2 separate regions of the Homo sapiens genome follow, and region 2 is linked to region 1. The links come from fine-mapping of genetic effects on gene expression. A gene starts in region 1. The other region holds a variant in brackets. All regions are shown on one strand. Distances are from middle to middle. Region 1 holds the start of PAG1 (phosphoprotein membrane anchor with glycosphingolipid microdomains 1). Region 2 has its middle 24 kb from the start of PAG1.

Evidence for each region. PIP is the estimated chance that this variant, and not a neighbour inherited with it, causes the effect.
Region 2: its variant is fine-mapped to the expression of PAG1 in whole blood (TOPMed, PIP 0.99).

What each region holds. Positions count from the first base shown.
Region 1 is chr8:81,109,252-81,114,637 of GRCh38, forward strand. PAG1 (phosphoprotein membrane anchor with glycosphingolipid microdomains 1) reads right to left here and starts at 2,817. Exons shown (of 9, transcript NM_018440.4): 1 at 2,340-2,817. RefSeq lists an enhancer at 2,263-2,332 and a silencer at 2,823-2,952.
Region 2 is chr8:81,133,265-81,138,650 of GRCh38, forward strand. No RefSeq gene overlaps it. Among named protein-coding and RNA genes, the nearest start is that of PAG1, 24 kb to the left of the region's middle. The variant G/A (reference allele first, on the strand shown) is at 2,276.

The DNA of each region.
Region 1 (5,386 bases):
ATACTTTAATCCTTAAGCTTAGATTTCTTCATGTATAAATTGAGGATAATAATGCAACTACTTCATTTGCAAGTTGAGGCAGCAGGGTCAAAAAGAACACAGTTTCAACACAGACAGACGTGGGTTAAATGCCAGCTCCAATTTCTACTATTTGATCTCACTGAGCTCCCATTTTCTCATCTCTAAAGTAGAGATGAAGCCACTTACCTCAAAGGACTGTGGTGGGGAATTGAGCAAGACAGTGTTAAATACCAGTTGGTGTCTGTATCGCTAGACAGTGCACAATAAATGTTTATACCTTCTCTCCTATTATACACATGAACTGCTTCTGTTAATATTCATCAGCAGCAATTCAATGTCCATAGCAGCAATTCAATGTCCATAGAGTCCAAAGATGCATTTCCTTTCATAACAATGAAAATTTTTCCCAGAACAAGCTTAATATGCCAGATACTGGCCCAACAGCTCTATGTCTATGAACTCATTTAATTCTCACTACTGTTCAGTGGGGTAGGTACTACTACTGTCATCCCCATTGTACAGATGAAGACACTGAGGCACAGACTTTGGGTTACTTGCCTAGATTCAAACAGATGGTACCAGAGCTGGCAGCCTGGCTCCATAGCCTGTCCTCCTAACCAGGCTGCAATAGGGCTTAATGGGTCAATCTGTTTGAGATTCCATGCTTGGATGTAATCTCTTCTAGAGATAAGCACTGGATGCTCTCACAAACCGCAATGTGTTGATGTGACTAACTTTTCAACTTCTGAAATAACATTTTGTGTATTTTCTTAGTATTCCTAAAAAAAAACCCTTTACACTTTAAATAAGGTGCCTATAACTAGTTCATCTTGTTCTGCATGCTGAAATACCATAAATAAATGCACTTCTCTCTTCAAAGATTATGTAAATAAATCTTACATTAAAACATACCCCTGAGCTTTGGTTTAAACAATAATTTCAAGTCCAAATTAAACATTTATGTATGTGTATATATATTTAGCAGGAAAGTCTTAATATGACCTATTTTGTTAAACTAATGACATCTATACCCAATACTCCAAATATTCCTCTTATTTATAATATTCGCTGTGTAACAGTCACACAGCAGTACTGCATGGTACTTCAAAGTACTATTCCTTTTACAAGTTTAACCAACTCAGGTATTAAACATCAATGATGATAATCCATAGCTCTGCTTAAAAGGAATCTCTCGGGAACAGCTGAGAAAGAAAGGTTAAAGATTTCTATCCTTCAAAGTAGGGCACTGCAGCTACCTATAAATCATGCTCTTTGTTTATTAAGATAATTAGGCCCATCAGTACACTTAACTTTTAGACTCAACAATTGTCTGGCATGAACAATTTCCACTTTTTCTAAAACAAAGGGGATGTGTTCAAAAAGCGGTCCTCTGCATGCTCTCTGCACAATGCATGCTATTTTAAAACATGATTTATGGGTCTAATTCCTGGAGCTGCCTTGAAAAATATAGTGGGTTGTTCCTCCCATGCTCCCTATTAGGAGAAGACACTCCAATTTGAAGAGTGCACTCTGTTTCAGACTTCAGGCCGCTATATCATGTCAGCATTTTCAGTAAATACTGTTCAATTGGACTTTAAACAAATGGAATGGAGGGCCACAGCTGCAGCCACTGCAGAGATAAAGTTATCCAGCCGGGAGGCTTACATAAGAGGTGCAGGACAATCAGGGTGAAATCCAAGTGTCATTATCTGAATCCTATTTCTTGAGACTTGCCTACATTCTTAAAGTGTATGAATTCACACGCCCAGAGCTCGTTTTATTTGCCTTAGGGCATAAAACACCGGGTCGACATATAAGTTGTTTTTTCCCTAAAGGACTAGGCTCCAATTATGAAAAGGTTGGCAACTTCTGCCTAGGGGAAGAGTAAAGCGGGATGCGCGGGAAGCCTGCAGGCCTGAAAGAAATGGCTCGCCCAAAGATCCATCGCAGTGCTGGCCACACTCCCCAGAGGAATTAGGATGGAGGTGACAAGACCCTGCCCAGCCCCTTCACCCCAACGTAAACACAGAGTCAAGGAGCTTGGAATGAATAATTAGCACGCAGCAGTCGAAATGCCCTAGGAGTACCTGTCCTCTCCCAGCATATTTCCAACTGGCACATTCGTGAGATGCTGAGGTCAGCCAGCCCTGGACTCCAGACCTTCCAGCTGCCTTGTCCCCTTCTTGGCACCCCGCACTCCCTCCTCGAGCTGGAACTCTGTTAACAAGAGGTGCCACCCTCGGCTTCCCACAAGAAGATAAAAACGAACCTCTCCTTCCCACGGCTCCCTCCAACTTCAGAAACTACAGTCAACTTACTGGGACTCAGGAGGCAGGGAGTCTTCCTGGCGGACGGCGCTCGGAGGCAGCCTCTGCAAACTCCGGCGCGCAGCGCCGCCGCCCCGGCACAGCCCGGCAGCAGCGGCAAGTGCAGGACCAGGCGCCGCCGCTCTGCACCAGTCGCCTTGGCTCAGCTGTGCCGGGCGCCGGGCATTCGCCAGGGCACACGACTCAGCGAGGCGGCGGCTGGGACTGAGGCTACTGCACCCGGCCGCGCGGACCCGAGCGCTGCAGCTGCCTCCAGCCCCGGAGCGCGGCGCTCCGAGCCCCTGGTGGGTGTCTCTGGCTCCAAGGGAATCACGGCTCAATTAGGGACCTGCCAGGAGAAAAACCGATGCGCTGCCGCAGGCAGAGCCGCCAGCCCGCCCCCAGTCGGCTGGTCACATCGCGGGCGCGCAGACGGACAAGCGAGCGGGAGGGTACCGCAGCCAGCACTCGCCGCCGCGCCGCGGAGAATGACAGGCGCCGAGGCGGAGCAGCCGCGCGGGGAGCGGGGCGCGAGTGCGCATGATCCTGGCCGCAGCGGCACGTCACGGGGGAGGAGGGGCGGGCCGCGGGGCGGGAGGGGGCGAGCCGGGCGGGGCCGGGCTGGGGGTGCACACGGGTGAGGACCGGCGCGGGGCCTGGCTTGCTCGCGGGAGGATGCAGGAAGTCTTCCCTGCCCTGATTTTATGAACCCAAAGCTCTGTGGTTGAACTTGTCCCAGGAGCCCATTGTCCTTTAAACAGCACCGTTTAAGCGGTCCTTAAGGTCCCTGGGGAGCCCACAAAAGCCAATTTAATTCAGGTTACAGCTTAACCGTAAAGGGTTGCCATTTGGGGGACAGTGATCTTCTATTGTGGCTGTGCATTAAAATAACTTGGGGAGCTTGTAAGAACCCTTTGCCCCGGACGCATCCCAGAACAAGTACAGGACAATGTCTGGGTGGGGCCCACCCAGGTATCAGTAGGTATCTAAAGATACCAAGGTACAGCAGTGCTTCTCAAACCCTCAGTGTGTGACAGAATCTCCTGCGGATTGTGATGAGATGCAAGATTCAGATTCAGTAGGCCTGGGATAATGAGGGAGACATCCTTTCTAACAAGCTCTCGGAGGATGCCAATACTGGAGGTCCAGACCCCCATCCTTGCTACTTAACGTGTGATCTAGAGCCTGGAGCAGAGCTTCTGAAACAGTTGGCCTGTCTGACAGTCACCCGAGGGGCTTATAAAAAACGCAGAACAAATGCCCAGGCCGTACCCCCAGTGATAGTGGTTCTGGCTCAGCCCCTGGCAAAGGTGGGCTTCTAGAATTCCATTTGGCATCAACACTCTAAATAAATCTGATAGGGGTTTTGTTTGGGCCAAACTTCAAGTTTACACTAGCAACCTGGAATTGGGAATAAACTTTTGCACTTACAAGGAGACAAACCAAGTCTAGAACTCAGGACATCTGACTTTGAGTCAGGGATTCTAAACCAACGGGTGCTTTATCTGACTAGTCCCAATTTTCTAAAATTATGATGCATTACTTAGCAAGAAAAAACATATAAATGGCATTAAATATACACACACACACTCTATTGAACACTCGTTACACATATCATTAATGGGAGCTTAAAGGTGGCTGGGGAAGAAGGCTCATCAGGAGAGGGTAAGGAAGACAGTGATGGAGTAAGGGATGTTGTTAGTGTGTCGCAGAGGGAAGGGTATGTGGGAGGAAACAGTTTAGACTCAGCCTACAGCTTGGAAAAGCCCATTGGGGAAGCGGACCCAGGAACCAGACTTGGCCTCTTGCTTCAGAGCATGGTATGAAACTCAGGTGTTTAAGAACTTATGGAGTATAACATTTCACATACGTTACCTCACTGAAATTTCACAGTGGTCTCTTAAGTTGAATAATAATATAAAAAAGTATCCCCATTTTATATATTAAAGAAGACATCCTGGACATGAGTTGACTAATGGTGGAACTTGAATAAAAGTAGGGATCTCCGTGTTGGACTTGGCTTCTACAACTCTGGAGAAGAGGACAATTTAGACCTTATAAAGCAAATGGTTTCTGTGTTTACTAGTCACATCTTTTACAGGCTGTGCCTAAATTTGGAGTTAGGAAGGCTTTCATTCTTGTGGGGAGGAAATACATTTTGTGTCTTCCAGTTTTGCTACACTTGTTAGGATACACTTAGAACAAAATGTTCTAAGAGCAACCCGGTCCTAGGACATTGCAGTTCCACAGTGCAGGCTTCATTGAGGAGTTTGAAGGGCAATATTCACGTTATCTGGTGACAAGTGTAATTACCATCCTCATTTTACCCAGGCTCAGAAGCTAAGTGATTTAGACAAATTCACGAATGCAGGCAGGAGCCAATCTCTAGCCTCTGTCCTTTTCCTCTGCTCTCTTTTCACCAAGTAACATGCTGAGGATTGTTTTTCATTTCCAAATTTTTCATATCAGGATTTGCCATCAGTAAATTGGAACTCAAATGTATTTCAAAGCCACTCCTAGATAGAGAACCAAAAGTGTCAGGATCAATTCTTGTGCTTGTGGTAGATGCTATGGGCTATACTCTCGGTCTGAGTAATGTTTTGGAAGCAAGTATGTGATAGTTATATACAGTCTTCTAATCCAGAGGTTTGACTGGGAATGCTACACTGCCAACTGTGGTCTACCTGCCTTTATCTTTACTTCTTATCTAACTCTTCCATTACAGCCATTCTTCGGTGTGATTATGAAATTAATTCCTAAGAAAAAAGAATTCTTTGAAGGAGCTGGTACATCACAGGTTGTAAAACTTACTTCAGTTTTTAATAAGAAATATATATATATTTTAAATATGAAGGTAGCAGAATAGTCATGTTGGGACCTTTAGAAGAACCCAAAGTTGTCATTGTTTTCTTAGGTGCCCGACATTTCAATCAAAATATTTACATAATTCATTTGTATATTGATTTCAAGAGATCCAAGATTTAATTAAATAAAAAGTTACTATTAATTGGTGTGTCCTACTGCTATTGAATTTTGAACCATTGTTATTGGCATTAAAT
Region 2 (5,386 bases), 24 kb after region 1:
ACCTTGGCTTCATTTACACCTCTATTTTTAGAGTATTTCTCCCTAATTTCTATTTTCCAGCCACAGACAACTTCGCACCATAATCTGGAGTTTGAATGCAGTGTGAAGCCTCTGAGCTTTTGCTCACTCTGTTCCTATACCTCCATACTCTCCTGAGCCTCTCAAAATACTACCCTCCTTTCCATATCCAGGCAGGTGTCTTTCTTGAGCCATCTATTCAGAATGCATCACTTTTGTGTTCAAATACCGTGTGGTTCAGATGTCTACTTGGTGTGAATTTCACTTTACTTTATTTTATGTCTTTCCTTCAAAGATCTAGAAGACAGAAACTATATTTCTAGGACCCTGCTAGGTCTTGTGCTTAGTGGTGGTCATTTGATGAGTGTTTACTGAAAATAAATTAACCCAAATGCAGGAGAGGACGTTTGTTTGTGAGGAGGTGAGTTGCAGGAAGAAAGATGGAATCATCTAAGGAAAGTCAGAGACATTTCTGTACACATTGTCACTGAATTCTCTTTGCTTCTCAAGGAGAGGCCGAAGATTTCCTTTCCTGGAACTTGAAACAGAGTGTCCAGAAGGCTTGAGAGATAAGGGGCAGGGAAGCAAAGATGTCTTCCCTTTTATGGAACTCTTTGGGAGCCCAGCTCTAAAGGAGAGAATCAAATCCGTGTTTTCCTGTGTAATTCTTCCCTTTCTTTCTTACGTGTACCTGTGTGGTCCAGGATTCTCCCTCCTAGTTCTCGTGTGGTACCTGTGTGGTCCAGGATTCTCCCTCCTAGTTCTCGTGTGGTACCTGTGTGGTCCAGGATTCTCCCTCCTAGTTCTCGTGTGGTACCTGTGTGGTCCAGGATTCTCCCTCCTAGTTCTCGTGTGGTACCTGTGTGGTCCAGGATTCTCCCTCCTAGTTCTCGTGTGGTACCTGTGTGGTCCAGGATTCTCCCTCCTAGTTCTCGTGTGGTACCTGTGTGGTCCAGGATTCTCCCTCCTAGTTCTCGTGTGGTACCTGTGTGGTCCAGGATTCTCCCTCCTAGTTCTCGTGTGGTACCTGTGTGGTCCAGGATTCTCCCTCCTAGTTCTCGTGTGGTACCTGTGTGGTCCAGGATTCTCCCTCCTAGTTCTCGTGTGGTACCTGTGTGGTCCAGGATTCTCCCTCCTAGTTCTCGTGTGAAGATTAAACTGTGAAGTTTCTTCTCACGTCTGCTGATGTTTACCTTTGGGTCCCCATCACCCAGCCGAGGGCCTGACAGGGAGTGGGCACAGAGTAAATGGCTGGAGCAAGCTGCACAGAACTAACTGTGGCGTGCAGTGAGCGAGGAAGCAGAAATCTGATACTCAGAGGGCGATTGCGAAGGAATCACAGGGAGAATTACAGTGACTGAAAAGTAGCAGGAGGTGAAAGGACAGATGGCAGGATGCAGTAAAGAAAATGGAAGGGAGACACTTGGCTTTGCCATGATTAGTTGAACTAGACGACTTTGGACCCACAATAGAAGTAGAAATATTAATTGGATTCAAGTTAGCAAGTCTTTATTGCACGCTCATTTCTACAATGAGCCATCCTCATTTCTGTAGCTGAGTAAAAAAAAGAGTAGAAGAATATGACTAATTTCTGATTGCAAAGTAATTATAGTTCAGTTGAAATACATGTACAAACACACGTGAGATTGTTTAATTATGACACAGTAGAATATGACATCGAACTTCTTTCCCCTGCTGCATTTAACTTACCCATGAGTCTGAATGGCTTAATGTACAAAATAGACCCCATATCTGCCAACTTTTCTCCATGTTCCCCATACAAAGTCTCCACCTCTTTTGTCTCCCCTGGACCTGCAACAACCTCTTAACTGGTCTGCCTCATTCTAACTTTGTACCCTCATGGTCCATTCTCTGACCAGTAGTCAGAGAGATCTTTCAAAAAACACAAATCCTGTCTTGCCACTCTCCTGCAGAAAACCCTCCCATGCGTCTGGGTGCACCTGGAGTAAAAGGTAAAGTCCATGCGGGATCTAACTCTTGCCTGACTCTCAGCTCCTCTCTTCATGCCTCTCAGCATGCTTCCCTGTGCTTACTCTCCTCCTGCCACACCGCCCTTCTTCCTGTTCCCCCTATCTTTGCAGGGCTGGCTCCTTCTTGTCATTCAGGTCCCAGCTCAGATGTCACCTCCTCAGTGAAGCCTTCCCTGACTATCCCCCCAACCTAAACTATCTGTCCCCTCTCCAGCCACTTTCTTGTATTACCCTGTTATAGAGCTTCATAGTACTTAGCAGCATCT[G/A]AAATGTGTAAAATGCATTTATTGTCTGTCCCCGCCTCCCAGAATGTCCCCAGCTCCTTAAGAGGAGAGATCTCGTTTGTCTTTTTCATTGCTCTATTCCCAGTACCTAGCCTGATATCTTGTGCATAGGCAGCTCTCATCAAATAGTTATTGGGTGAATGAATAAAAAACAGGAATTATTAGAGACAAAGAATGGAGATTGTAGCTCAGGGTAGTTGGGCAAAGTGCTTGGAGGAAGAAATATTATTTTAGCTATGAAGAATGGTGTGGGGAACAGAGGCTAAGAAGCAGCAATGTGCACATTTTTGTCAAAGGAAGACCCTGGCCAGGCTGGAGCAAAAGGTACACAACAATAACAGTGGGGCAGGTGTCATGACAGGGAGTTAAATTTGTATGGAATCAGAGGGCAAAAGAAAGTCATTACACTGCCAAACTGTGTGTGTGTGTGTGTGTGTGTGTGTGTGTGTGTGTATTTTGCCTTAGGTGGCAAGACATTGAAATTCCACAGGGTGCCTAAGAGCTAGGATATCTATTTATCATCTTATTTCCAATTTTGACAAATATGAAACAAATTATAGTCCCTGAATCATGAACATAATGAAAAAAAGTTAGTCGACCCCATATATTTCATATTTATGCCAGTGATGGTGATTTGATTTGATTTTTTGTCTCCTCTGTTTCTCATGAAGTGGTTCACTATTTTGATAGAGCAGCTCCCTGAATTATTCAATCGAGGAATAGTTTTCGTTTGCTTGATGTTTCATTTTCTCTCAGGAATGGCCCTTATAGAATATGCATTTCTTTTCCTTGAGTGAGATAATGTATGTGAAAGTACTTTGCAAACCATCAGGCGCTAAGGAAATGGAAGGTAGAATGATTATTACCTTTTAAGGTCTTAAGAGACATAAACTACTAACAGCATCATCTTATTGCTCTGCTTTTCTTGCTTTTTGTTGCTGTAAAAAGAACTATTTCCTCTCAAGAGATTATTCTCTGCTACAGTCGGGAGGCAAACATGTTTGTCTATACATCGTCCAGTTACTACCTCTAAGAAAATTAACAAAACTCAGATGTTCCTGAGATAAATGTTGGATAAACCATTAGTTGTAGAGAATATTCTTTGTCCAGAAGAACAAAAATATTAAAATTCTGCCGATTTTAAAAAAGCGCTTCTTCCTGACATCCCTCCTTGGCTCTTCCCTTGTGAGCACAGAATGTCCACATGCAGACTCGGGAAGAGTGGCAGTTCCTGTGATCACCTAAGTTGCCATGGACGGCAAGGATTGGGAGACTTCAGTTTTATGTTCTAGTTACCAGTGAAACTGCCCCATTAAATATTTTAAGGAACACATTCGAAGTATGAAAATATTTTCTAAAATAGAATCCATCTCTTCGTTTGTCCTCTAAATATAGCTGATGTGTCCATCATGGGACCTGATCATAATATTTTTATGGTGACATTGATGCTTTCTTTGCAATTTTTGAAAAGTAATAATTTTCTCCATGTTATAGCTATCATAGGAAAAAGCTGTTCTTGGAAATACTGGGATGCCTGGGCCCATCTCCATTAAAAAAGCGAGACTTCAGCAGCCACAAAAAGGAAAGAGATCATGTCTTTTGCAGGGACATTGGTGGGGCTAGAAGCCATTATCCTAAGCGGACTAACACAGGAACAGAACAGCAAACACCGCACGTTCTCACTTATTAGTGAGAGCTGAACAATGAGGCCACATGGACACAGGGAGGGGAACAACACACACTGTGGCCTGCTGGTGGGGACGGGAGCCCCGGGGCAAGGGAGAGCATCAGGAAAAATAGCTAATGCATGGTGGGCTTAATACGTATGTGATGGGTTGGTAGGTGCAGCAAACCACCATGGCACACATTTACCTTTGTAGCAAACCTGCACATCCTGCACATGAAATTAAAATAAAAAATAAGCAAGACTTGGAATTCAGTTAGGAGGCAAAGGACAGAGAGGCAGTAGGGGTGGAATGGTTTTGAGTTCTGGCCTAGATGGAATTCCAATGAGATAAGCTGAAGTGGGTGAGTAGAGGCTGATGGGGGTGGTTTTACCTGAACGAATGTAGGAAAATAGGGACCCAGGCAAGAGCCTTCCAGCGGAGAGGCAAAGCAAAAAAGTGCAGCTTTTTTAGGGGAGAACTAGATGGAATGTAAGAGCAAATGCAAACTTCTAAAAGAACAAGGAGACAAGGACCTTAACTAGTTTAGGAACAGGTAGGGATTAACATTTATCTGATAGGCCGGATGAATTTGGAGTTTGAGTGCAATAATAACAATAATATCTAATATTTATTAAACTTTTAATGCACCAGTTACTATAGCAATCATTTTCATAAATTATCCTGCATTATCTCCTTAATCCTTACAACTTCATAAGATAAAAACTTATTTTAGGTTCTTATCTTATTTTAATGTTGGAGAAAACAAAAGTTTAGGGAATCTAAGATGATTCAGTGGTGAAGCCAGTACCCAAGTTATGCCTGTGTGACCCCCTAATTTATGATATGTATATACTTCTTAAAGATATAATATGGCTTGTGTGCTTGTATTTTTAATTTGAAAAATATGAACACACACACAGAAGTTAAAATTAACCTTAATTCTACCATGGAAAATAAATATCACACAATCCTTCAACAACCCCCATCCCCAAAGGTAACATTACCACTTTAGTATGTGTGTGTGTATATATATATATATATATATATATATATATATAATGTGTATAGTATGTGCACACAACTACATATATATGTAGCCGTTTGTTTTCTGCAACCTTTTATATTAAAAAATAAAACAATCTTTCAAGAAAATGATCTTTTCATATTTGTGCATTTTTCTTCCATAGAAAATAGTGCTGCAAAAATATATATTTACATATATATGTATGTATATAGACAGACAAAATTTTGACGATAAGGGGTTGCAGCAATTTATACTTATGTGAGGGTATGATATGAGGGCTCCTTTTTACTCACATCATTGTGGAAACTAGTTTTTAATTTAAAAATTTTTGGTTATTCTGATAGTGGGGAAATGGTATCTCATTTGTTTTGCCTTTTTTGAGTTATTATTGAAGATGAATAT